4 linked regions of the Homo sapiens genome follow. The protein of the gene in region 4 interacts with the protein of the main gene of each other region in a pairwise test. Each region holds a gene or a part of one and is shown on either strand. Other genes may lie near its edges. The genes, in order: FHL5, TSC22D2, SCYL1 and SEC31A.

What was found.
Region 1: the proteins of SEC31A (region 4) and FHL5 interact in binary tests that used the Homo sapiens proteins (3 or more experiments, as listed by UniProt).
Region 2: the proteins of SEC31A (region 4) and TSC22D2 interact in a two-hybrid assay, tested with the Homo sapiens proteins (one study listed by BioGRID).
Region 3: the proteins of SEC31A (region 4) and SCYL1 interact in binary tests that used the Homo sapiens proteins (3 or more experiments, as listed by UniProt).

The regions. Positions count from the first base shown.
Region 1 is NC_000006.12:96,566,106-96,573,137, reverse strand, and holds part of FHL5 (four and a half LIM domains protein 5), read right to left. Parts: intron 1-7,032. UniProt on the Homo sapiens protein: May be involved in the regulation of spermatogenesis. Stimulates CREM transcriptional activity in a phosphorylation-independent manner.
Region 2 is NC_000003.12:150,453,292-150,460,323, forward strand, and holds part of TSC22D2 (TSC22 domain family protein 2), read left to right. Parts: intron 1-3,784; coding exon 3,785-3,836; exon of another isoform or gene 3,837-3,841; intron 3,842-5,084; coding exon 5,085-5,345; 3' UTR 5,346-7,032. UniProt on the Homo sapiens protein: Reduces the level of nuclear PKM isoform M2 which results in repression of cyclin CCND1 transcription and reduced cell growth.
Region 3 is NC_000011.10:65,535,051-65,539,204, reverse strand, and holds the end of SCYL1 (N-terminal kinase-like protein), read right to left. Parts: intron 3,979-4,154; coding exon 3,823-3,978; intron 3,253-3,822; coding exon 3,064-3,252; intron 2,947-3,063; coding exon 2,871-2,946; intron 2,620-2,870; coding exon 2,455-2,619; intron 2,220-2,454; coding exon 2,077-2,219; intron 1,397-2,076; coding exon 1,325-1,396; intron 1,239-1,324; coding exon 1,023-1,238; intron 955-1,022; coding exon of another isoform or gene 936-954; coding exon 881-935; intron 764-880; coding exon 639-763; 3' UTR 501-638; downstream 1-500. Other genes in the region: LTBP3 (latent-transforming growth factor beta-binding protein 3 isoform 1 precursor), read left to right, coding at 1-125. UniProt on the Homo sapiens protein: Regulates COPI-mediated retrograde protein traffic at the interface between the Golgi apparatus and the endoplasmic reticulum. Involved in the maintenance of the Golgi apparatus morphology.
Region 4 is NC_000004.12:82,888,153-82,896,096, forward strand, and holds the start of SEC31A (protein transport protein Sec31A), read right to left. Parts: upstream 3,002-7,944; 5' UTR 3,000-3,001; coding exon of another isoform or gene 2,936-2,999; intron 2,914-2,935; exon of another isoform or gene 2,543-2,913; intron 1-2,542. UniProt on the Homo sapiens protein: Component of the coat protein complex II (COPII) which promotes the formation of transport vesicles from the endoplasmic reticulum (ER).

The sequences.
Region 1 (7,032 bases), on a different chromosome or scaffold from region 4:
AAATGAATGAAAATATGAATGAATGAATTACATGTATGTATGACTTTTTGGTACTGTCAAAGATAATAAATAGTTTGATACCTTGATCAGGAGAACGGTTAATCTTCTTTCTAAAAGTATTAAAGGTCAGAGAGATAGCAGCAAGATAGCCAACTAGAAGCCCCTAGTGCTTATGCCTCTGTCAAAGACAGCCAGAACAATGGAAAAGCAGCTGCATTTTAAAACTAATAGAAACTTGGGTGAGCACAAAAACTCAGGATGGCTACATAGAGAATAAGGAAATGCCAGGCCTTCACCATCCCATCCCCCAAGTGGGATCAGCTGGAAGCCAGGAGGAACTTCTTATGGTGAGGAGGTAAGCAGGATGACTCCAACAATCTCCATCAACACCCTGGACACCAACAGACCTTCCCACTGGTGTTCTCTGCAGTCTTCTTAGGCACCAAGCCCACATGGTGAAGCTGCCTGGAGTCTATATAGCTGTGCTTAGCCAGAGAAGGAGTTGACACTGTGCCCCACCTGCTGTGGCCCATGTGACTATTGGCTATGGCATCTTGGAACAGGAACTACAGCTAGACTGAGCCTTACTCAAGGAGTAAGTAGTCATGGCTCCCCTTCATCCCTGAGACTAAACCACCCCTGAACCACCCCATCCCCAGAGCCCCACATCCCCAATATGTGCTGTTAACAGCTGTTAACACTTTTTCCTGTGGGGTCAAGTGGAGGTGGAATTGCTCTACCAACTCCTCCCCCTGCCCCTGCTGAAGCAGCATCCTGTCTCTTGGGAAAACAGTACCTTGGCTATTCAGAGCAGTCATGTCTCCCTGGTGTCTAAGTTGAAGTGGTGCCCTGCATCCTAGGAAATTGTGCCTTGGCCATCCAGAGCAGTCATGCACTCCATTACTTAAGCTGAACTGATGCCCCGCATCCCAAGAAAACAGTGCTTGTGCAGCCCAGAACAGTCACATCCTTCAAGCCTGAGCTGAAGTGGCACATTGTCCCTTGGGGAATTAGTGCTCTGGCTGAGCTGAGCAGAAACTGAGCTGAGACACCTTGCTCTATAAACTGAACAATTTTAGACTTCGATTCCCCAGCACTGGCCTAGCTCTCTAGAGTCTCAGATGCAGAAGTACCCCTCTATCTAGGGAGTGGAGTCATTGCTGTGTTTTTTCCTACCCACCTGTCACCCAGGGAACAAACAACAGCTGTCCTCCACCATTCTGGAGTACTGAAAGCAAATACACTTGGCCCCACACATTCTGGGATACTGCTGAGCACCACTATCCCAGGGTCTACAATCACTACTACCCAGTGCCTCATCCCTTGGAACCTGAGTTGACACTGAGCCCTATTGACTCAGGTTTCTGAATTGCAGCCATACCCTGCTCCCAAGGCCAAAGTTCCAGAGCACTCCTTATTCCCTGGAGTCAGGCCAGTGCTGTGCCCTGCCCCCCAGGGGTAGAATCACAGCTACAACCTGGCACCCTGAGCCTGAGCTGCTAGGGGGTCCCTCAGAATCATAGATCCTGGCTCTATGGGTAACCTACATCCAACCCTGCCACAAGGGGTGAAGCTGCACCCCAAGCCCAGTTGCCTCAATAGCTTTATGAGATACTGAGCTGAAAACTCCTACTGCATGTAGAATCCTGATCACTGCACGTAGAACCCATGCCACTGCAGCTGCTTGTAGGCCATGTCAGACTTGACACCAAAAGGGATGCGCTCAGCTAAGTCTCCTTATTTTAGAGAAAACCAGAATAGGAGGACCCCAGAAGCCCTTAACACAAAGAACATTAAAAACTTATGTTGCCAGTGCCATTGCCACAAACCTCTAAGCGTAGGCTATGAGGCACCCACAGTTATTCCTGACCTTGAATACAACTGAAGAAGCTGCACAGAGACTCTATCTCTATACCTATCTGGAAACAGAGTCACTACACCTTTTCTAACTGCACAGTAAAACTCAACTGCAGGATGAAAGACTTTCTTTATGAAAATCACTCCAGAAAGTTTGAAAAAGGTGATTATTTCACTAGATACACAGACATCAATGCAGGGACACAAGAAACATGAAAAAGCAAGGAAATAAGAGACCAACAAAGGAATATAATAACTCTCTAGTAACAGACTCCAATTAAAAGGAAATCAATTAATTGCCAAAAAAATGTAAAATAATGATTGTAAGGAAACTCAATTAGATACAAGGAAACACAGATACACAATTAAATAAAATAAGAAAAAAATTCACAATATAAATGAAAAATTCAATAAAGAGATAAAAATCATAAAAAGAACAAAACAAGAATCCTGCAGTTGAAGAATTCAATGAATAAAATATAAAATACAATAGAGAGCTTCAGCAGCAGACTTGATCAAGCAGAAAAAAGAATCTCTGAACTTAAAGCTAGGTCTTTTGAAGTTACCCAGTCAGAGAAAAGAAAAAAGAAATAAGAATGAAAATGAGTGAAGAATTCCTATAAGACTTATTGGAAAACATTAAACAAACAGATATTTGTATTATGGAATTTCCAGAAGGAGAAGATAAGGAAAAAGTATAGAAAGCCTGTTTAATAAAATAATAACTGAAAACTTCCCAATTTAGTGGTGGGGGTTGTGGAGGAGGGATATTTGAACATCCAGCTCCAGGAAACTCAAAATTCCCCAAATAGATTCAACCCCAAAAAGGTCCTCTTAGAGGTACATTATAGGCAAATTGTCACAAGTCAAAGACAGAGAGTTCTAAAAACAGCAAGAGAAAATTGTCAAGTCACATAAGAGAACTGCATTAGACTAGTAAATTTTGCTACAGAAACCTCACAGGCGAGGAGAGAATAGAGTTATAAACTCAAAATGGTGAAAGAAGAAAAAAAATTGCTAGCTAAGAATACTATACCCAGCAAAGTTATCCTTCAGAAATTAGGAAGAAATAAAGCCTTCTCGAGGTAAGCAAAAACTGAAGGAATTTGTCACCACTCACCTGGCCTTACCAGAAATGCTTAAGTGATTTTCACTTACATCTGGAAGTGAAAATCACTGTCATGAAAACACACCAAAAGTATAAAGCTCATTGGTAGAGCAGATATATGAGGAGAAAGAGAAAAGAATCAAACCTTGTCACTACAGAAAACCACCAAACCACAATGATTAACTATAAGAGAAAAAGAAAGGAACAAAAGATATACAAGACAACAGGAAAACAACAAAATGGTGGATGTTAAGTCCTCACTTATCAATAATAACCTTGGCTGTAAACAGACTAAATTCCCAACTGAAAAGATATAGACTAGCTGAATGAATTAAAAAAAAAAAAGACCTAAGTATATGCTGCCTAAAAGAAACTCACTTCACCTAAAAAGACACATATAGAATAAAAATAAGGGATGGAAAAAAAATCCATACAAATGGAAACCAAAAGCAAGGGAGAATAGCTATACTTATATCAGGTAAAGCAGACTTTAAACAAAAAGAGACAAGGTTATTTTCACTTCAGCAAGAAGATGTAACAATTGTAAACATACACACATCCAATACCACAACATCCAGATTTATAAAGCAAATAATTAAACCCAAAGGAGAAATAGATTTCAGTACAATTATAGCTGGGGACTTCAACACCCCTCAGCATTGGACAGATCATTCAGGCAGAAAATTAACAAAGAAACATTTAATTTAAACTGCACTTTAGACCAAATGAACCTACCAGACATTTACAGAACATTTCATTCAACAGCTGCAAAATACATATTCTTTTCATTAGAAAATGAAACATTCTTTAGCATAGACCACGTTAGACCACAAAACAAATCTTAACAAATTTAATAGAAATCATATCAATTTTTGACCACAATATAATAAAACTAGAAATCAAAATAACGAGGAACTTTAAAAATTGTACAAATACATAGAAATTATACAACATGTTCCTGAATAACAAATTAGTCAATGAAGAAATTAAGAGGAAGATTTTAAAATATCTTCAAACAAATGAAAATAGAAACACAAAATACCAAAACATCTGGGGTATAGCAAAAGCAGTATTAGAAGGTAAGTGTGCAGCAACAAACACCTATATCAAAAAAGTAGAAAGATATCAAATAAACAAGCTCATGATGCACTTCAAGAAACTAGAAAAGCAGAGTAAACCAAGCCCAAAATTAGAAGGAAAGAAAGAAAAGCATACATAAATAAAATTAAGACTAAAAAATACAAAATATCAACAAAATGGAAAGCTGAATTTTTTTGAAAAGATAAACAAAATCAACATTCCATTGGCTTGACTACCCAAGAAAAACGTAAAGGTCCCAATAAAATCAGGAATGAAAAGGAGACATTACAACTAATACCATAGAAATACAAAAAATTATCAGAGACTATTATAAACAGCTATATACCAAAAACTTTAGAAGACCTGACAGAAATAGGTAAATTCCTGGACACAAACAATCTATCAGAAGTGAACCAACAAGAAAGAGAACACCTGAACAGACCAATTACAAGTAATGGCATTAAGTCTGTAATAAAAAGTCTCTTATCAAAAAGAAGCTCAGAATATGACAGCTTCACTCTGGAATTCTACCAAAGATTTATAGAAGAACTAATACAAATTCTCCTCAAATTCTTCCAGAAATTGAAGATAAGGGAATTCTTTAAAACTCATTCTATGAGGCCAGTGTTACCTTGATACCAAAACTAGTCAAGGATGCAACAACAAAAAAAGAAAACTATAAGCCAATGAACATGATGAGCATAGATGCAAAAATCCTCAACAAAATACTTGTGAACCAATCTGGCAGCACATTAAAGAGATTATTCACCATGTAGGTAAGATTTACCTCAGGGATGTAATATACAAATGAATAAATGTGATACATTACATCAACAAAATGAAGGGCAAAAACAATTTGATCATCTCAAGAGATAGAGAAAATGTATTTGAGAAAAATTCAACATCCCCTCATGATAAAAATTCTCAACAAGTTAGGTATAGAAGGAATGTACTTCCACATAATTAAAGCCATGTATGACAAACCCACAGCCAATATCACACTGAATGGAGAAAAGTTTAAAGCTTTTCTTCTAAGATTTGGAAGACAATCATCTCACTTTTATTCAAAAGAGTACTGGAAGCCCTAGGCAGAGCACTTAGGCTAGAGAAAGAGATAAGGAGCATCTAAATTGAAAAGGAGGTCAAATTGTCCTCATTTGCAAATAACAAGAGCTTCTATATAGAAAATCATAAAAGCTCCACCAAAAATCTCAGAACTGATAAACAGATTCAGTAAAGTTGGAGGATACAAAAAAAAAAAAAAAAAGAATACAAAAACCAGTAGCTTTTCTATACACCAAAAACAAACTAGTGGAAAAAAAATCAAGAAACAAATTGCATTTATAATAGCTACAAAAAAAGCCATGTAGGAATATATTTAACCAAGGAGGTGAAAGATCTCTACAATAAAAACTGCAAAACACTGATAAAAAAAATTGAAGAAGACACAAAAAATGGAAAGATATCTCATGTTCATGAATTGTAGACATTAATATTGTAAAAATTAATACAATACTACTAAAAGTGATCTACCAATTCAATGCAATGTTATCAAAATACCAGTGATGTTCTTCACAGAAACAGAAAAAAACTCCTACAATTTATATGAAACCACAAAAGACCCTGAATAGCCAAAGCAATCCTGAGCAAAATGAACAAAGCCGGAGAAATCACATTTTGAACTTCAAAATATATTTCAAAACTATAGTAACCCGGATAGCATGATATTGGCATATGAATAGAGACATAGAACAATGGAGCATAATAGAGAACCCAGAAATAAATTCACATATTTACAGCCAAATGATTTTCAACAAAGCTGCCAAGAACATTTAATGGGGAAGGAACAGTCTCTTTGAAAAATGATGCTGGGAAAACTGAATATTCATATGCAGAAAAATGAAACTGTATTTCTACCTCACATAACATGTAAAAATCAACTCAAAATGGATTAAAAACTTAAATATAAGACCTGAATCTATGAAGCAACTAGAAGCAAACATAGGGGAAATACTTCAGGGTATTGGTGTGAGCAAAAATTTCATGGATAAGACCTCAATAGCACAGACAACCAAAGCAAAAATAGACAAATGAAATTATGTCAAACTAAAAAGCTTCTGCGCAGCAAAGGAAACAGTCAACAGAGAAAAAAGACAACCTGCAGGACAGGAGAAAGTATTTGCAAACTATTCATCTGACAAGAGTTTAATATTCATAATATAAAATGAGCTCAATAGCAAATAAAAAATCACATTAGAAAGCAGACAAATAAGCTGAATAGACATCTCTCTAAAGAAGACATACAAATGGCCAACAGGTAGGTACAAAAAATGGTCAATGTCATTAATCATCAGGGTAATGCAAATCAAAACCGCAAGAAGATATAATCTCACCCCAGTTAGAATGGCTATTACCAAGGAGACAAAAAAAAAATGCTGACAAGGATTTGGTGAAACACAAACTCTTATATGTTATTTGGAATATATGCATATATATGCCCATTATGGAAAACAGTTTGAAGGTTCCTCAAAAAATTAAAAATAGAACTACCGTATGATCCAACAATCCCACTACTGGGTATATATCCAAAGGAAAGGAAATCAGTATGTTAAAGAGATATCTGTATTCCCATGTTTATTGCAGCACTACTCACAACACATAGCCAAGATATGAAATTACCTAAGTTTCCATCAATAGGCGAATGGATTAAAAAAAGTGCTATATATCCCAATGAAGTATTATTTAGTTGTAAAAAAGAACAAATTTCTGTCATTCACGGCAACATGAATGAGCTTGGAGGACATTATTTTAAGTGAAATAAGCTAGACACAGAAAGATAAATACTGCATGTCCTCATGAATATGAAGAAGCTAAAAAAGTCAATCTCATAGAAGGAGAGAGCAGAATAGTGCTTACTGGAAGCAGAAAAGGGTAGGGGGAAGAAAGAGATAGCCAAAGGTAGGTTAAGAAATACAAAATACAGCTAG
Region 2 (7,032 bases), on a different chromosome or scaffold from region 4:
TGATTCTGCTTCAGTTGATCTTTCTCATTTTAAAAGAGTCAAATCTCACTATGATAACTTTGAACATAATAGAAAACATCTTGATACCCTCATTGAAACAGTATTTTTAAACCATATTCTGGGATCTTGAAATAAAATAGTCTCTTATTTGCTTAAGACTACCATATTGGTATCTCCATCGTAAATATGGCTAAAGCAGTGGTTCTCATACTTTAGTTTCTATCTGAATCGCCTAGAGAGTTTGTTAAAATAGATTACGGGGCCCCGCCCCAAGAGTAAATCTGGGGTGGGTCCAAATATTTACATTTCTAACAAGGTCTTGGTGGGTCCAAATATTTACATTTCTGACAAGTTTCCAGGTGATGCTGATGATTCTGGTTCAGGGACTACACTTTGAGAACTGATTTATCTGAACTCAAAAAATTTTAATGCCTTCCTCATATGAACCATTAATTGTTTCAAATCTATCATATCTAATTACTATCAGTATGCATTGAGTTACTATGTGCTAAGCACTGAATTCACTTATTCACAAAGATGAAGAAGTTATGGAACCTTTCTCAAAGAGCTCAATCTAATAGGATCAACAGTGGTAGTATTACAATACTCAAAGTAATCACTGTCTGTATTGAGTGCTCAGTGTGCCAAGTACTATGCATTATGTAAACTCATTTAATCCTCACAATTGGCATATAATCCTTATTTTAAATGAAAAAACTGAGGTCTAGAAAGGTTAAATAATTTCCCAGAATTCATATAGTGAGTATATGGAGGAGCCAGAATTTGCTATTCTGCCTTTTTGCACTATAAAAAGTTTGCGAAGATTGGTAGACCCCAGAAAGGATGGAGTAATTGGCTCTACCTTAGAAAATCAAACAGCATCACAGAAGAGATGGCACTGGAGCATCTTAAGGGACAGGTCTAAGATAGCCAGATGAATTGGAACTGTGAGCATTTCCAGCTGAGGGAGCAGTTTCTGCAAAGCCAAGGAAACCCGAGAGAACATATGTTCCACAGACTACAAATAGTTGTATAAGACCATAACACAATAGGCAGATGGAGTATAAGAGGAAAACAGACTGTATAAGGCAGAGGTCAAAGTCATAAAGAATTTTATATGCCAGGCTAAAAAGTTTTAAAAATAGAATTAGGCTTCTTAATTTTTCCTCCTATAACTTTCATTTGTAAGCCAGCAGTTCTCAAAGCATAGTCAGACAGTAGATTCCACATCATCTGGGAACTTGTTAGAAATGCAGATTCCTGGTTCCATGCCTACTGAATCAGAAACTCTGAGTGGGGGAGCCCAGCAACCTGAGTTTTAACAAGACCTCCAGATGATTCTGGTGCATGCTAAAGTTTGAGACCCCTGCAGTAGGTTATAGAATTCTTGAATAATAGCCTTCAAGATAGTTAAAGGTCACTATAGTGGTAGTAATTATATTTGACACTGATTTATTCTATTAGAGTACAACACCTAACAGTTGAAATATTAACACCATTTAAGGGATACATCTTCATCATGATCTATTTATACCTTGCAAACCTGTTTCTTCTGTTGTCATAAAAGAGATCTTAGGACAAGAGTTTGTTAGGTCAGCATTCAAAGAATAGCATGCTAACTATTCTTCCTTAGCTATGGGAATCATTCTAAAACTCGCTGACTGATTTTAATTATCAAAAAAAAACCCCAGTAATTTTTGTTTTTTTTACTGCTTGTTAATACATAAAACTGATGTTGTAGTTAGTATTTAAGGTGTGCTATTTAAACCAAATGTGTTGAAGGAATCAAATGATTTAAGTCATGACATGACTTAAAAGTAATTCAATCTTTCCTTGTCATGTCAATAAAAATATAGAAAGTATAATCTGGGATTCCCAAGCAAACTAATTTAAATGCCTGTCACCGTCTTTTTTGCCAAAATGTGTTCAGTATTTGTGGTGAATATGTCTGCATGGTATCTGGCACTGAAGTATATACTAAAGCGTTATGGTTGACTTAGTGGTTCTGTAGTTTATAGTTACATATAGTCATACTTTGCACAGCTCACTAAAAGCATTTAAAGCCCAGCACATATAAAGTATTTGTTAATGATCCATAAATCCTTTCTAGATATTAGATATACAAAACCTCTTTTCATCTTAGAAATAGTAGCAGCAAGAAGTGAAGGTAGTATGCTGTAATTAATGTGGTTAATGCTCAAATAAACAAACGTAGTTTCCCATGTAATGATTCAAGATTTCAAGGATTTAGAAGTGGAAAGTCCATTGAGGCATTGACATCAACCCCTTGTTTTACAGATGGGGAAACTCAGATCCAGGGAAGTTAAATAGGTGATTTGCTGATGTCCCATAGGAAGTGAATAGCAGGATATCACAGGACAGGATATTTCTGAGCCTCAATCTGATACAACATTATGGGTCCACACCATCTAAAGTAAAGTAGTTTCCAGGTATTTTAGCACTAAAATCTTAGGTGGAGTATACTTTATGAAGAATATTTAGTAACATATAAAAAATTATCTTTTCGTATTGATACAATAAGCTACAGTATCAGATTTTTCTTTACAAGAGTAATTTTTAAAAACCTAATAACTGTTTTTAGAAATAAAATTCATTAAAAAACAATAAAAGGGTATAAATTCCAGCTATTCTTACTACTTAATACATGGTAGAATATAAACCACCAAAGAGGACAATTAGCCTTCTGTGTTATTATCATACAATTGCTAAGGTGATATTTGAACTTGGAATGTGCTTACAGGCTGGATAACTTTTCAGTTATTCCCAAGAAGAACTGATCTAAACCACACATACCTTATAGGTGATTTTTGCCAGCAAGTAACCTACAGTCAAATACATGTAGGTCTGCCAGAATGTTGTTTCTTTTTGTTTTTTTTTTTTTTGTTTTTTTTTGAGATGGAGTTTTGCTCTTGTTGCCCAGGCTGGATTGCAATGGCGTGATCTCGGCTCACTGCAGCCTCTGCCTCCTGGGTTCAAGTGATTCTCTTGCCTCAGCCTCCTGAGTAGCTGATTACAGGCACCCGCCCCAAGCCTGGCTAATTTTTTTTGTATTTTTAGTAGAGATGGGTTTTCACCACGTTGGCCAGGCTGATCTGGAACTCCTGACCTCAAGTGATCCACCTTCCTTGGCCTCCCAAAGTGCTGGGATTACAAGCGTGAGCCACCACGCCCGGCTGAATGTTGAGTTTCTTGTTAACCAATCCTACCCAAAGACTTTCTGAACCATTTTTAGAAGCCATTAAGTTTTTTTTAAAAAACTAGATGTTAAAGTATAAAACTTATACCAGAAAAGTCTTACTAAGAGGAGGGACTAGAAAAAAAAAAGTCAAGCCATCATCTGAATTTTACTACAATAAGTAATTATTGGAATTTCTACATGAAAGGCAATTAGAATGTATAGTTGGTTAATGTAGAAATTTAAGAGATACGGAGAAGACACTGCCCATTTAAAATGTATCCTTTTAAAACCACTGAACAGAGAAATTCTTAATACAATTGAGAGTTAGTTTTAAAGTAGCATACATGTATTACAGGCAAATTAGAAATGTTGGCACTACAAAGGACCTGTAGAAATCATCTATTTACTGAGACTTTCATTTTAGAAATGAGAGCTTTGAGTACTGAAATTGTCAGAACAGAATAAGCTATTTTAAATTACTGTATATTTGGTTTTAAGTGAAACACAAATGTCTTTTACATTCTTTTAAGAGTTGGAAGGGAGGTTAAATTTTTTAGAATAATAACATATTCTAATTTTTTCCAGTGCATCTGGGGGAGGTGTTGTAGCCATTGACAACAAAATAGAACAAGCAATGGTAAGTAAAAGTTTACAGTTCTCCCATTTCATAGATTGTTGGTTGTATGGAACACTTAGCTTTTGTCAGTTTTAGAAAACAAATAAGTTATTTAAACCAAAGATGACCAAATCATGTTTTTTGATAATGAGATTTAGTTGAAGATGCTAGAACGTTGAGAACTTTTAGTCTAGAAATACTATTTAAGTAGATATTTCTTCCATTTGAATATCTCACATTTCATGCATTATCATTGATAAGGGCCATTGGTGAGGGGGCATACATATTTAAAGACAATATGTTCCCCAGATATTTCAGCATTGAAAATACTTTAGAGTGAAAAAGAGTATTAAAGCAAAAACAGCTGGAGGTCTGATTGAAGTAGACTGTAAGTAAGCTATAAGTAGGCCAGGCACAGTGGATTGTGTCTGTAATCCCAGCACCTGAGCTGAGGTGGGAGGATCACTTGAGGCCAGGAGTTTGAGACCAACTTGGGCAACATAGCAAGACCCCGTCTCTACAAAAAAAGTTGGTATTTTTGTTTGTTTTGAGATAGTCTCGCTCTGTCACCCAGGCTGAAGTACAGTGGCATGATTTTGGGTCACTGCAACCTCCACCTCCCAGGTTCAAGTGATTCTCCTGCCTCAGTCTCCTGAGTAGTTGGGAGCACAGGCACACACCACCACATCTGGCTAATTTTTGTATTCTTAGTAGAGACGGGGTTTCACCATGTTGGCCAAGGTGGTCTCAAACTCCTGACCTCAGGTGATCTACACGCCTCAGCCTCCCAAAGTGCTGGGATTACCGGTGTGAGACCTTACAGGACTGTTAGTCTCAAACTATTTTTTTAAAAATACCAAAATTTTAAAGTCCAAAATTACAGATCACTTTAAAGCAGTACTATGACTAGTTTAACATCAAACAGCTTTCCGTTGGAATATTGTTCCTTTGTTCTCTTTATCTACCATTTTAAGCATGTGATTTTAAACTTTTTTTTTTTTTAATTCTAAGCTTAGTTGACAATTTAAGAAGCTAGTATTTTTTGGAAATCGTCCCAAACTTTGAAAAGAAAATTCTGGGCTTACTGCTCTGGTTGGGAACTGGATTTTTTCCAACCCATCTTCCATAGGCTCGGTCAAGATAAAGCAGAAACATTAAAAGCAAGAGCAGGAAAACTAGTATAAAAACTTAGCACCAAGTAGGCCAGAACCAGATAGCACCACCTTTATCTTTTCACTCTTTTGACATTCCTAATTTTGTTTTTCACAGGATCTGGTGAAAAGCCATTTGATGTATGCAGTAAGAGAAGAAGTGGAAGTTTTAAAGGAACAAATAAAAGAATTAGTTGAAAGAAACTCTTTACTTGAACGAGAAAATGCACTGTTAAAATCTCTTTCAAGCAATGATCAATTATCCCAACTCCCAACCCAACAGGCCAATCCTGGTAGCACTTCTCAACAGCAAGCAGTGATAGCACAGCCTCCGCAGCCAACGCAACCTCCACAGCAGCCGAATGTCTCCTCAGCATAAAGCTTTCTTAAGCCTCATTAAGAAAAAAACTGAAAGCAATCTATCCTTGTGTGCCACTGGTGTTCTTTCCACTTTATACGAAAGCAAGTAGCCATGCTTTGGTTGTGTGTTTGGCCTTTTCAGTATTAGACAATCATTCTACAAGAGCTTTTCCTCTCTCTGAGATGTCATGCAGCGCTGTTGATGTCCAGTTCTATGTCATCAGTACACAAGGAGAATAATAGATGGGGTTTATTAAAGCGAGCAAAGTCTGCATTTTACCTGGTGCGCATGAGTGGGGTCTTTAAGAGTTTTGGTGGCTCTCCCATGTTTCCTATTACCCATGGATTTACCCTGAGCCTTCCTATCACATTATAAATAACAGTTCATCTAAAGAGCCACTTTTCTTTCTGATTCAGTAACATTTGCCTACATAAGTTTTCATTTATTTGTGTTTTATTTATTACAGGGCTGCTATTTTCATAATGTACATGAACAATGTCACAGAACTTTTTTAATTTTTTTGAATAATTATAAGTATCAGTAAAGGAAGTGAAAGACAGGATTGCATTTAATAGATAAAACGTTTAGGCAATAATTGAACAAAAGAATCCTGGCATATTTCTAACACTAATGGCAATTTACTTATGGTATTTATTTTCAGTAGTAAAGACCCAGCTTGAATGTAAATTTTGTATAGTGTAAGTATGAAGAACATAGTGCAACTGTACAGGTAGTCACCAGTTATTGTGATATGATAAATAATTGGGCTATTTTGATGAAGAAAACTTTGTTCATTTGTTTCTACTTTCTAAGAGAAATTGCCACGATTCCTCTGCTTTTCAACATTTCGTATGACTTTTTTTTCGGGTGGGAATAAAAAGCTGTGAAATTGTTCAACCTACTTTGTAACCAAAGAAGCAAAGCTGTGTAATGGAGTTTGGTTTTTTTTTGTTGTTTTTTTTTTTTTGTCTTTTTTTTTTTTTATAATGCACATTCTTTATGTATTTTTATTTAGTGTTTTCTCAGTCACAATTTTCTTTACTGTCTAGCATGATCTGCATGACCTATAATCTTTGAACCACTTTCGTACCTCATGTTTTTATCCAGCACTCTTATTGTAATATGTACTAGTCTGTGAACAATGTCAAATAAAAGAGAACGAACAGGTAGTTTGGTGGAGCTGAGCTAGTGTACAATACACTAGTTGTAAAAAAAAAAAAAAAAAAAAGTGAGCCATCTTTTGTTCATTTAAAATGGTGTTTTGAATTTCGTATGCAGAAAACGTTTTGTTACATTGCAGATTTTAATGTATTTAATAAATGCAACATGCAGATTAAGTGCAGTGTATACTGAGTATTTAAATTAAAATGTACATTTCATAAATACAGTTTCAAAAGAAAGCATCATTTTGTGTATACTAACACATTAAGTGTATGTCAGAAATTGATGTATAAATATATATTTTAACATTTTCTGAAATTAAACTGCAGTTTTGTTGAAATATTTGGCTCTATATGTGTTCAAAATTTGACTAGATTTGTATTTTCACAGTTCAAAATACTCCTTAAAGACCTGTTAATAATGACTTACTGATAGTTCTTAAATTTTCAAAGTAAAACAATTTAAAGAATGCAAAAATAGTGAGCAATATTTGTACTCAATATTCATATTATGTTAGTGATACTTAAGTAGGAAATCCTTGTCT
Region 3 (4,154 bases), on a different chromosome or scaffold from region 4:
AGCGCGGGCTGCTGTGCAAGAGCGAGCGCTGCGTGAACACCAGCGGCTCCTTCCGCTGCGTCTGCAAAGCCGGCTTCGCGCGCAGCCGCCCGCACGGGGCCTGCGTTCCCCAGCGCCGCCGCTGACGCCGCCGACGCCGCCCTCGGCCCAGACCTCGGTGATCACTGAGGGATTTCCGCGAGCTCGGCCTCACTTCTGCCCCGACTTGTGGCTCGGACCCAGGGACCTTCAGGGCCCGCAGACCCTCCCGGCGCCTTGAGACCCGAGGCGCCCCTACCGGCCCCCCTCCCCGGTTAGCGGGCGGTTGTAAGGTCTCCGGCGGGCGCTGCCTGCCTTCCTCCCAGAGGGTGTTTCCTAGAAACTGATAAATCAGATCGTGCCTCTTTACCCTTGGCTTTCGAAGCAAATTGATGTTCACGTCTGACGTGGGCGCGGGCTGCGCAGGGCGGCGCCAGACCCCAGCCGCCTCCCAGGGGCTAGACTGAGCCCGGCACAAGGGGTGTGAAATAGAATTTATTGTGGCTCTGATTATGTACACGTGAGATGGCCTGGCTGGGCCGGCCGGGCTCACATGGTTTGTACAATAAATACATCTGTGGGGCGGGCTCTCCGCAGCCGGGAAGGGCCACCGCCACGGTTCAGTCCAGCTTCCGGGCTCCCAGCTTCATGGGGCCCTTGGCCACCTTCCTCTCGGCGCGTTTGGCCTCCATCTCCCGCCGCCGCTCCTCGCGCTTCTTCCGGGCCAGCTCAGCCTTGACCTGTCCTGGCGTCAGGAAGGGGAGCCCCGGTCTCAGCTCTCCAGCCAGTGCCTGCCGGGGGCCTGTAGGGGCGGGCTAGTCGGGGAGCCCTAGTCTTCAGCCCACCCAGGGGAAGCACTTACGACTGTCAGTCTCGAGGCCCTCCCAGTTGTCCTCACCCCAAGAGTCTGGCCTCGGCTGTAAAGAGAAGTGTGGGCTGCAGTGGGGCCCACTTCTGGCTGAGGTCCACCATCTCTACCCTCTCGCCAGACCTGTGCTGGGTACCTGGGTGCTGGGACGTGCAGACAGGGTAGCGAAGGGGTCGCCCTTGTCGCTGGACTCTGGGCCACCCCAGTTATACTCGCTGGCCAGCCGTGTACCGTCAGGAGGTGGCTCCTGGGAGCTTGGCTCCTGCCAGCCCTGTTCCCAGGAGCCCTCAGCTTCCCAGCTGCTCCAGTCGGACTCTGGGGATTTGGAGGATTTGTGGTCGGAGTTGCTGACCTGTAGAAGAGCGGGAGGGGGAAGTAGCCCTGGGCCCAAGGAGGAAAGAGCCCCATACACACACCTCCCCACCAGACCCAGCTCACCTGACTAGCACGGCTCACTTGGCCCCCGGTGCTCCAGTCGTCCTGCTGGGCCAGCACAGACTCGGCCTCCTGCTGCAGTGTGGGAAGGGACCACTGACTCCCACCCCATGCTAAAGGGCAAGTGAGCCCGCCCCAGCATCATCCCAGCCACGGGCCCCACCACTGTCTTTTGCCTTCCTCCTCATTTGCTCCTCAGGCCCTGTTTCCCATCTATTAAATGGACGCTGACCCTGGCCTGCCCTCACCCCTCTTTAAGGCTGGGGAATGAGATCTAGATGCCCCTTCCAACAGCCTTGAGGGCCAGAAACTGCTGCTGTCAGCCAGATGGGGAAATTGGGCCCCCAGCTCTGCCCCATTCTGAGGACAGCCCCAGTCCTCCCTCAGCCCAACCTGAGCCCATCCCCCAAGCAGAACTGGTCTGGTTCTAGACCCAGGAGTGGCCTCTCCTTGCTGACCCCCATGGCTGGGTGGGCACTGGAGGAGGGGAAAGGGGGACGGTGTGGGTAAGAGTGAGGAAGTTCAGGGAATGCCCCAGGCACCATCTGCCTAGCCTGCTCCCTGGGGCCGCTGGGGTTGAATGGGGCCTGCTGCTGGCTCTGGCCTACAATGGCCACTCCATGAGGCCTACGTGCCAGGGATGCTGTGCTGATGAGGACAGGCCAACTCCAGCCAGGCCCCACAGAAGCTCCCTGAATGGCAGCCTGTGGATTTGAGCTGGGGTCCCCTGGGGAGGCTCCCTCAGCCCCACACACCTCCAGGCTGCCCCAGTCTTCGTCGTCCCATCTGTCAGCAGTGCTGCTGTCCTCTGCTGTGTCCTTGTCCTCCTCCTGCGTCTCCCAGTGGCCTGAGGTTGTAGGGGTGGCAGGAACAGGGGTGGGGGCTGGGGCAGGAACTCCTGGGGAGCAGAGGCTCACTGAGCTTTCAGGGGGGTCTTGGGACAGGGCAGAGGCTGCTAGGGGAAGGGGGCTACTGGGGGGAAGGGGCACCAAGGAAGCCCACAGGGTGACTGGAGCCTACCCAGCTCCTATATCCCCTTCACCATCCCCGGGGGAGTCAGACAGTAAGAGTTCCTGGGTGCCTGCAGCTCTCAGCCCTCTCAGCCACTGATGCAGCTAGGCCAGGACACTCACCTTCAGGCGTGGGTCTTTGGGGAATGTTGGTTTCTGTTGGGGCAGTGGTTGGGTGCGAACGGATCAGCTTGGAGGTGAGTGAGGAGACCCCGGTCACGGCCCAGCCTGCCCAGCTAGCTGCGGCTCCTCCCATGCCAGGGCTGGAGGCTGCATGGACATCCTTCTCTGGGCAGTGGCATGAGAGAGAGGTGGGTATGGGCACGTCAGGCACCCATGGGTGACAGGACAGCAGGAACTGACAGTGCCCTGCAGCCACCCCTCCTTTCTCCAGGCCTGATTTCTCCCATCTGTGAAGGGGGAGCTGAGTCAAGTCTGCTCACTAGGACCTTTCAGAAACTCCAGTGGGGGTGGGACACAAACAGGTCACAGTCAAGGACATGGCAGGGAAAGAGGGAACACGAGTGTAAGCCACTCACCCACTTCCTCCAGCTGGGTCGGGTCCTCCGACACAGACTCCAATTTGGACAGGAAGCTCCGAATGGCCTTGAAGGCCTGTGGGGTAACGAGGCAGAGCTGGGGTCTCTGGGGTTCCCAAGAACCTACCAGGCCAGCTAGGGGCTGACATCCCCTACAGCCCCAGCCCAGGGCCCAGGCCCAGCTGTGCCTCACCTGGTCTCGCACGGATTTCTCAGGATCTACAGTGAGACCGCAGAGCACAGGCAGGATCTTCTGGGCACAGTCGTTCATTGAGTAGAGGTTGTGGGTGGCAGCAAAGCCCAGGACACCCGCAACCCGGGACGGTGCAAACGGGTCCCTAGTGGCTCGGCTGAAGGCAGAGGTAAGGACCCTGTGTCTGGTCTACGATGGGGCAGGAAAGAGGGCTCCTGAGTGTAGGGTCAATGTTGGGACCCAGAACCACCAGCCCTTACTTCCCAGAATGGGACCACCCATAGGTCCCCAGAATCTGAAAAATATGAATGAATCACTTAAATGGGGAGAGTTGACCTAAAACTCTGGACCTGGGCTTCTCTTCCCAAATCACTGGGTTCCACACTGCCTCAGGGCATGGGACCACAACAGCAGCTGTCCCCAGGGCTCGGACACAGGCTCCCTTCCTCCCTGCCCAGCTGACCGTTCATTCCTGTTAACTGTCTGGGCACGGCAAGCAACTGAACTTACAAACCCTGGCTGAAGGGATGCACACAGGCCATGGGGCCAAGCACGCCTGGATTCAGATCCCAGATCCCTCCTGACTGTGTGACTTCGGCCAACTCACTCCTCCTCTGGGAACCCAGATATGGGGCCAACAGCGTGCAGGGTCTAAGTCTCTGGGAGAATGAAGGCCCCCACACACAAGACTCCTGGCCCTGGAGGAGGCTGTGGTCCTGCGACAGGGACCGGGCTCCAGCAGTTGTGCAGGACACTCACGCTAGCACTGAGGTAGGAGCCGATTTTGCCCAGGCAGACTGTGGTGTTGCAGCGGATGGGGCCCTGTTCATCCTTGGCCTGTAGCCGTGCAAAGTGCTTCATCAGCTCCACATTGAGGTTGGCCTCGTTCAGCTTTGGGGCCAGGAGCAGCATGGACTGTGGGGCAGAAATGAGTGGGAACTGTGGGCTGTGGCGGGCAAAGGGCCTTGTGCAGGAACAGCCTCCTGGCAGCCCTCATCCCAGAGCACACCCATCAAAGCCTGCAAGGCCACCTCCCAGCCTGGGCCTGGCCCTGTCCAGCATGTTGAAGAAAGGGACCCCATTTCTGTCCC
Region 4 (7,944 bases):
TCACTTGAGGCCGGAAGTTCGGGACCAGCCTGGCCAACATGGCGAAACCCCGTCTCCACTAAAAAATACAAAAACTAGCCGGGCGTGGTGGTGTGTACCTGTAATCCCAGCTACTCAGGAGGCCGAGGCAGAAGAATCGCTTGAACCCGGGAGGCAGAGGTTGCAGTAAGCCTGGGAGACAGAGCGAGACTCCGTCTCAAAAAAAAAAAAAAAAAAAAAAACACACAAAAAACATATATATATATACACACAGACACGGCCAGGCGCAGTGGCTCACACCTGTAATCCCAGCACTTTGGAAGGCCGAGGCGGGCGGATCACGAGGTCAAGACATCCAGATCATCCTGGCCAACCTGGTGAAACCCTGTCTCTACTAAAAATACAAAAATTAGCTGCGCGTGATGGCGCGGCCAGTAGTCCCCGCTACTCGGGAGACTGAGGGAGGAGAATCGCTTGAACCCAGGTGACGGAGTTTGCAGTGAGCCGAGATCGCGCCAATGTACTCCAGCCTGGGTGACAGAGCGAGGCTCTGCCTCAGAAAAAAATAAAAAAAAAAAAAAATTTCTTGAGGAAAATTTATATTCTAGACTAGAACTCTTTATTTTTCATGCAACTTTCTCTCAATAATTGCATTCAATTAGGTGGAAACTTTTTTATTTCTGCTCATTTTCAAAGTGTAAATTTTGTGAAGCAATACTAAAACCCACCAGCACTGTTCTTTGAAAAATACCAACCTTGCAATGCTATATACAGAGCTGATCCATAACTCAGAAAGCAAGTAAAAAGTTAAAGAGGTAATAGAATTGGAACTTGGATTCCCAAACCAGGTATACAATCCCTAGTTGGCACTGCTTTCAGTAAAAATCCATTTTCTGCAGGCAAAATATCTCAATATGGATAGAAACAATTGTTTAGAGGATTTATTTAGTATTTTCAATGTTCTAGGTTCATTTCACTCAACCCAAACCAAATCAAAGGAGAAAGCAACTGTGCACTGGTTACTGAACTAATTGGTGTCATACTAATCTTCAGTATAATAAAACTTTTTGAGCTGAAATTAACCTAATGACATTCCTAACAACAATGTAATCAATGTAAATCAATCTAGTAATATCCCCTTACAGGAGTTTTTAACTTGTAAACTTCATAATATTATGTATATAGAAAATCCTACATGTCACTTGAAAGCAGGAGCTTGAGTCCAGCCTGGGGAACGCAGTGAGACCCCCATCTCTATAAAAAATAAGATTAGTTGGGCGTGCGCCACGTGCATATTCCTAGCTACTTCTGAGGCTGAGGCGGGAGGATCTCTTGAGCCCAAAAGTTCAAGGTTATAGTGAGCTATGACTGCACCACTGCACTCCAATCTGGGCAACAAAGAGGGACCCTGTCTCAAAAAAAAAAAAAAAGTAAAAGAAAAAAAAAGAAAATCCTACATGTGTGTATATGTGCATTCTTCCAATGCTTTCATTAGATTCCCGTAAGACAGTGAAATCCCCCCAAAATTTTGAATCATTGCTCTTCACAGTTTACAAATTTATTTCTATTCCCATGTTATTGGTTTCAATAAAGAATTTGCTTATATAAAATTAAGCAATATCATTATAAATCCACCTCAAATTTCAAATTTCACAAATAACCGCGGACGTATTTAAGATAAAATCACTACAAAACTACAAAAACACTACGAGTTATCCAAAAGTTCTTAAGAGTCTACAAACCTCTCCCTGAGCTGTTAATTAAGGGATAGTGAGAAACAAGGAGCACAGAAGAACCACTAAAAAAGGAGAGTAGGCTGGGCGTGGTGGCTTATGCCTGTAACCCCAGCACTTCGGGAGGCCAACTCGGGCGGATCACTTGAGGTCAGGAGTGCCAGACCAGCCTGACCAACAGCGTGAAACCCCGTCTCTACTAAAAATACAAAAATTAGACAGGTGTGGTGGTGGGCGCCTGTAATCCCAGCTACTCAGGAGGCTGAGACGGAGGTTGCAGTGAGCTGAGATCGCGCCACTGCACTCCAGCCTGGGTGACAGAGCGAGACTCCGTCTCAAAAAAAAAAAAAAAAAAAAAAAAGGAGAGTAAGCTTTTGCCAACTCTTGAATAAACGGAGGTACAGAAAACGCAGGACGCTGTAACAAGAACACACCCTTATCGATTAAATACAGTTATAACTGCCCACAAAGACAACCAAATTTCAGTTTTCTATAGTTAGAAAAAATAAGTTAGGAGAAAGGATTTGTCACAGACTATCAGATCACTGCAACTTCAAATAGCCCTACGTAAAATTAATTCCTTAAGCGCAAGAAAAAATTTATAATGCCCACAAGTCCAGGCAATATTTTGGTTTATTTTACAACAGCCCCGTAATTTAACAACTTATTAGCAAAAACATGTAACACTTAATGAGACTGCCCTCAAAGTACAGGCTGCGCCTGGCTACCACCGTCCTTAAAATAATCCTAGTTAAATGACAGTAGACGTCAGTTCAAACCTATGAACCTTTAAATCTGGCAATAGTTCAAGTACAAAAAAAAATCCTAACCAAAGCCAAAGTAATCCTGAGATTTTTTTTCCTCTCCTCACCCTCGGGGACCGCACCTCTTTGTGCACAAGGGTCTGAAAGTCTCCTAATCTCAAACTCCAGTTACCAGCCCGGCTACTACTCCCCGGCAAGACACTGTCGCCAGCCTCGGGTGGCTTTTGCTCAGCAGTGGAGACGTCGGCGAATGCGGACGGGCGCGATCACTGGAGTCCAGATGCCAGGCGTTGTTCCGCCGGGCCCGAAACCAAGACTAGGGGCGCGCCGTCACCAGAGACCGGGCCTCAGGCTGGTGCGGGGCAGCGGAGACCCAGGCTGCGGTCCCAGTTTTGGCCTGGGCTCTACCTCAAAGCTTAAGGACCGGCGAAGAGGACAAAAAGCAACGGGCGGACGCACCTGGCGAGGACCTTCGGCAGCCGGATCCTGCGTTAGTGCAGCGCTCGTCGGACTCTCCCAGCATTCGCCGCCGCCCCTCCTCCCCGGCCAGGGCCACCTCCACGTTCCGTTCCAACGTGGCAGCCGCAGCCGCAGCCACGCCCTGCGCCCAACACTTCCGGGAGCGACATCTTTCCCCGCCCACCCGACGCACAGCCCGCCACGGCACTTCCGGGACCGGCGGTAGCCTGGGAGGCGGGGTACGGCTCCGCTGGTTGGTGGCGCTCTGCGGTCATCGCGCCCCGGCGATCGTAGAAACCCTTTTCTGAGGGGCGGCGCGCAGAATGTGGATGGGGTAGCCAGGACTAGTGGGTAAAGGACTAGTGCAGAGGGTGTCCCCGTCTGGCCGAATAACCGCCGTGGCCCGCAGGAACGCCACGTAGCACTAGTCCTGTGAGGCGTCGGCAGCCCCTGGCGACACTGCCCGCGCCAAACCAGGTGGAAAATCGGGCTGCAAGGGCTTTATTGTAATTTGTGACTGAGTTCTTAAAATTACCCACTTGATTGCACATTCTGGCGTTTTGAGAACTTATACAAAGTGAAACAATCTGGGCATTCCCAAAGGCTATTGTGGACAAAGAGGTATAGATGGGGTGTTATATTAATTCCAATTAGTACCGTTTCATACTTGTTACTATCCCATGGTATTGAGACCCGGTAGCACTCACCTTCTGCCACTGTTTCTCCACAACCTCAAATCTAATTAGATGCGTTGCCTAAGTGTACTTTTAGTTTAGGGAGGAATTATTTTACAGCAAGGTGAAGCCAAAGGAAAATCACTTGCTAAATTACCAGAAATTGGATTCAACCCAGATCTCCTAACTTCTAGACAAGTTCTTTTCTCATTACATCTAGCATTCAAAGCCAACTCTTGCACTTTGGGTAGCTAAAGCAGAAGGATCCTGCCCCTTGAACAGCAGCAGTGTTAACATTCCCACAGTCAGCTACATCTTCTGTAACATTCCATCTGAAGCTTGCAGCTTCATAAGACAGCTTAACATCAATTCACGCCAACTTCTGAAATAATGAACCCAACTTTTACTGGTAGTAATATATTCTCTTTCAGTCTTCTAATTACCATTTTCTTTCAACGCAGTAACTAAGGTTATCACTTTGGCCTGAATGCTAGTCAAACTGATTGGGATTTGTTTTTGATTAGTCTTCAATTCAAACAAGTAAATGCTCCATTTCAACCGCAAGCAGCTTTCTGTTCCTAGTGCAATTAAAACTGAAAGACGTTGAAGCAACTTTACCTTTTTACATTTATCAGACTTTTTCAATAGGCTTGTATTACAGCTTCATGCAGGTCTGGGTCTCAACCTATCTTTGCTTTGCTGTCACCACTTTCAAATCTAATCACATCCAATTTCACTTCCAGCATTATCACTTTTCTTTGCTGCTCTGTCCTTTGTTGACCAATTACCTCTTTTAATTATCCATTTTTATAAATGGTCACAAGTTTAATCTCTGGGGTCAAGGAGGCAACAGTACTATGCACTTTGTGCTCTGCTATCTGTGCATGAACTAAACAGATGATCAGTAACAAATCAACAAACTTTGAAAGCAAAGTAATGTAACTGGCGACTGATCATGATGCACATCTTTTTTTTGGGGGGGGGGGCACAATGATTTGTGGACTAAAGAGCTAGCAGCAAAATTTATGCAAGTTTTCTCAGTACTGTGGTAATGGAATTATTAACCACATTGTTGGACTGGTTTTATTTAACTGTGGTCACTGGTATTTATGCATATTGGAACTGTGCAAAGACTGCCTGTATCTAAAAAAAGAAAAACTCTTTAGTTCACAAAACTAAATCCAATTTAGTTAACTACTATCCAAGCCTAATCCTGAATCAAATAAAAACTGAATTGCTCACTAGAAGAATGTTTGGAGAGAATTTAATGACAAATTTTTCAAATTAGGATTTGCATAGCACAAAGATATTCTAGGTTTTTTTAGAGACAGGTTTTTGCTGTGTTGCCCAGGCTGGAGTGTGGTGGCAATGATCACAGCGCGCTGCAGCTTCAACATCCAGGGCGCAAGTGATCCTCCCACCTCAGCCTCCCAAGTAGCTAGGACTACAGGCACACAACACCATGCCTGGTTAATTATTTTATTTTCTGTAGACACAGGGACTCATTTTGTTGCCCATACTGGTCTGGAACTCCTGGCCTCCAGGGATCCTTCTGCTTTAGCCACCCAAAGTGCAAGGATTATAGGCATGAGCCTCCATGCCCATTTGACATTCTTTTGGGAATTCAGATCCCTTCCCCTCATTTCAACAGTCTTGATGTCTGCAAAGAGTGAAGTTGTAGACAAAACAATCATCACAAGATACATGAATGTTTATGTAACTTTTTCCATAGCAGCCAGTACTATGCTTACACCTCAGTAAAACAGTAGCATCCATTTCATTGTTTTAGTTTGTTTCTGAATGCATTTATTTCACAAATTTGTTTAAGGGCTATAAACAAAATTTGTATCAACTTGTTTGTATATATTTACAAAACAGAAAATTAAGTCAGCATTAAGTCAACATGAGTAGTCACAGAATTTTTCCCCTTTATAAATGGTACATATTCAAGGAGACTTCAAAAAGTTTGTGGAAAAATGGTTAAAAGATAAAAAATATAAACTATATTTTTGAACATTAGCTCTATAGCATTCAAGACACTTTTGTAAGTGATGATACCAGCTATTTAGTCCATCCCTAAAGAACTGAGAGTTCTGGGAATTTATCTACATCAATGCAGTTTCTTTATACATTAACTTGAGAAAAATGTACTGCCCTGAAAAATTTTTTTAAGATTAGGAAACAAAAAGTCAGAAGGTGCCAAACCAGGACTGTAGGGTGGATGCCTAGTGATTTCCCATCAAAACTCTTGCAAAATGGCCTTGTTTGATGAGAGGGATGAGCAGGAACATTGTTGTGGTGAAGAACTCTCTGGTCTTTCTCGGGGATTTTTCTGCTGAAGCTTTGGCTAAGTTTCTCAAAACACTCCCATGATAAGCACGTTACCATTCTTTGGCCCTACAGAAAGTCAACAAGCAAAATGCCTTGAGCATTCAAAAGCTGTTGCCATGACCTTTGCTCTCAACCAGTCCTCTTGTGCTTTAACTGAACTACTTATCTTGGTAACCACTGCTTTGTGTTTTGTCTTCAGGATTGCGCTGGTAAAGCCATGTTTCATCTCCTGTTACAATTTTTCAATGAAAGGCTTCAAGATCCTGATCCCACTTATTTAAAATTTCCATTGAAAGCTCTATTCTTGTCTGTAGCTGATCTGGGTGCAATGGTTTTGGTACCTATCAGGTATAAAGTTTGCTGAACTTTTCCAGTCAAAATTGTGTAAGGTGAACCAACTGAGATGTCTATGGTGTTGGCTGTTGTTTCTGCTGTTAATTGTTGGTTTTCTTCAATTACGCCATGAACTAACTTTTTTCTCACAAACTGATGTGGATGATCTGCCACTGTGGGCTTCTTCTTCAACATTACCTTATGCCTTCTTAAAACGAGTTATCCATTTGTAAACTGATTTCTTTGGAGCACTGTCCCTATCAACTTTTCATAAAGCATCAATTAGTTCACCATTCTTCCACCCAAGTGTCAACATATATTTGATGTTTGTTCTTGCTTCAATTTTAGCAGAATTCGTGTTGTTCTGATAGAGCCTCTTTTCAAACTGATGTCTTATTCTTCTTAGTGCTTCAAACTAGATCCTGTTCAGACATGTTATAACAAGTTAGTAGGAGTTTATTTTGGTCCAAAAATTTTGAAATCCATGCATAGTTTTTTCATGATATGCATTTTCCATGCACTTTTTCAAGACCCCTCATATTTTCTTAAATTTGAGAAACAACTACAATAACAAGCCTAATTCATGACAGAACTAGTATTAGATTTAAGATTCCCAGTTTCCTATCACCTTCTTTTCTACTGTTCCTGAACAGATCCTTAAGTTATAGGCTAGTCATCCTTGGCATATCTAACAGTCATTTGTAAACCCTGGATCTTTAAGAATATCAGGTGCTGAAAAGATTATATCATTATTTCTAAGAAAAGATAACCAACAGCCAGGTGTGGTGGCTTATGACTATAATCCCAGCACTTTGGGAGGCTGAGGTTGGTGGCTGGAAGTTTGAGACCAGTCTGGCCAACATGGCAAAACATGGTCTCTACTTAATAAAAAAAATTAGCTGGGTGTGGTGGCATGCGCCTCTAATCCCAGCCACTTGGGAAGCTGGGCCACAATAACTATTTGAACCCAGGAGGCAGAGATTGCAGTGAGCAGAGATTGCGCCGCTGCACTCCAGCCTGGGCAACAGAGTGAGACTGTCAAAGTTAAAAGCTCCACCCCCTCCAATGCCTTTCCTGAATTGAATCTATTAATTAAAAAAATACTATTTTGAAATAATACTTATCTTTAAAAGCTGGAAGAGTAAGGAAAAGAAATTTTTAATTCAGAGTACAGTATCCACATTAGGCTGAAATAAATGTCAATTTTCTGCTCATACCTGACCTTTTCTGTGTTCTTTTATCAAAATAAATGTGTAAGTCCCATACCTTATTATATAAATCTTCAACTTCTTGATCAAATAAATATGACAAATGATGTTCTCTAAGAAAAACACCCTTCAATTTTATTCCTAAAACGAAAAACATTCAAAGGAACTCATTGTGCAGAAACACAATATATACAAGTCTCATCATTTTCTTTTTCTATTATGTCCTCATCCACATACATTAATCACAACAAATCATGATGTGAACAGCAGTGGAAAAAATTTAATCATTGGACATTTATTTCTTGAACTTCAGCTCTAGTTGTAAGATTCTCATTGCTTAGCTCTTTAAAACAAATGCATATATTTATCTAATGTAGAACAGTTAAGACCTCCAATTTTACTATAATTGGGAAAAAAACTCAGAACAAAGATTATGTCAAGTGTATCACTGTATTGACTTTGT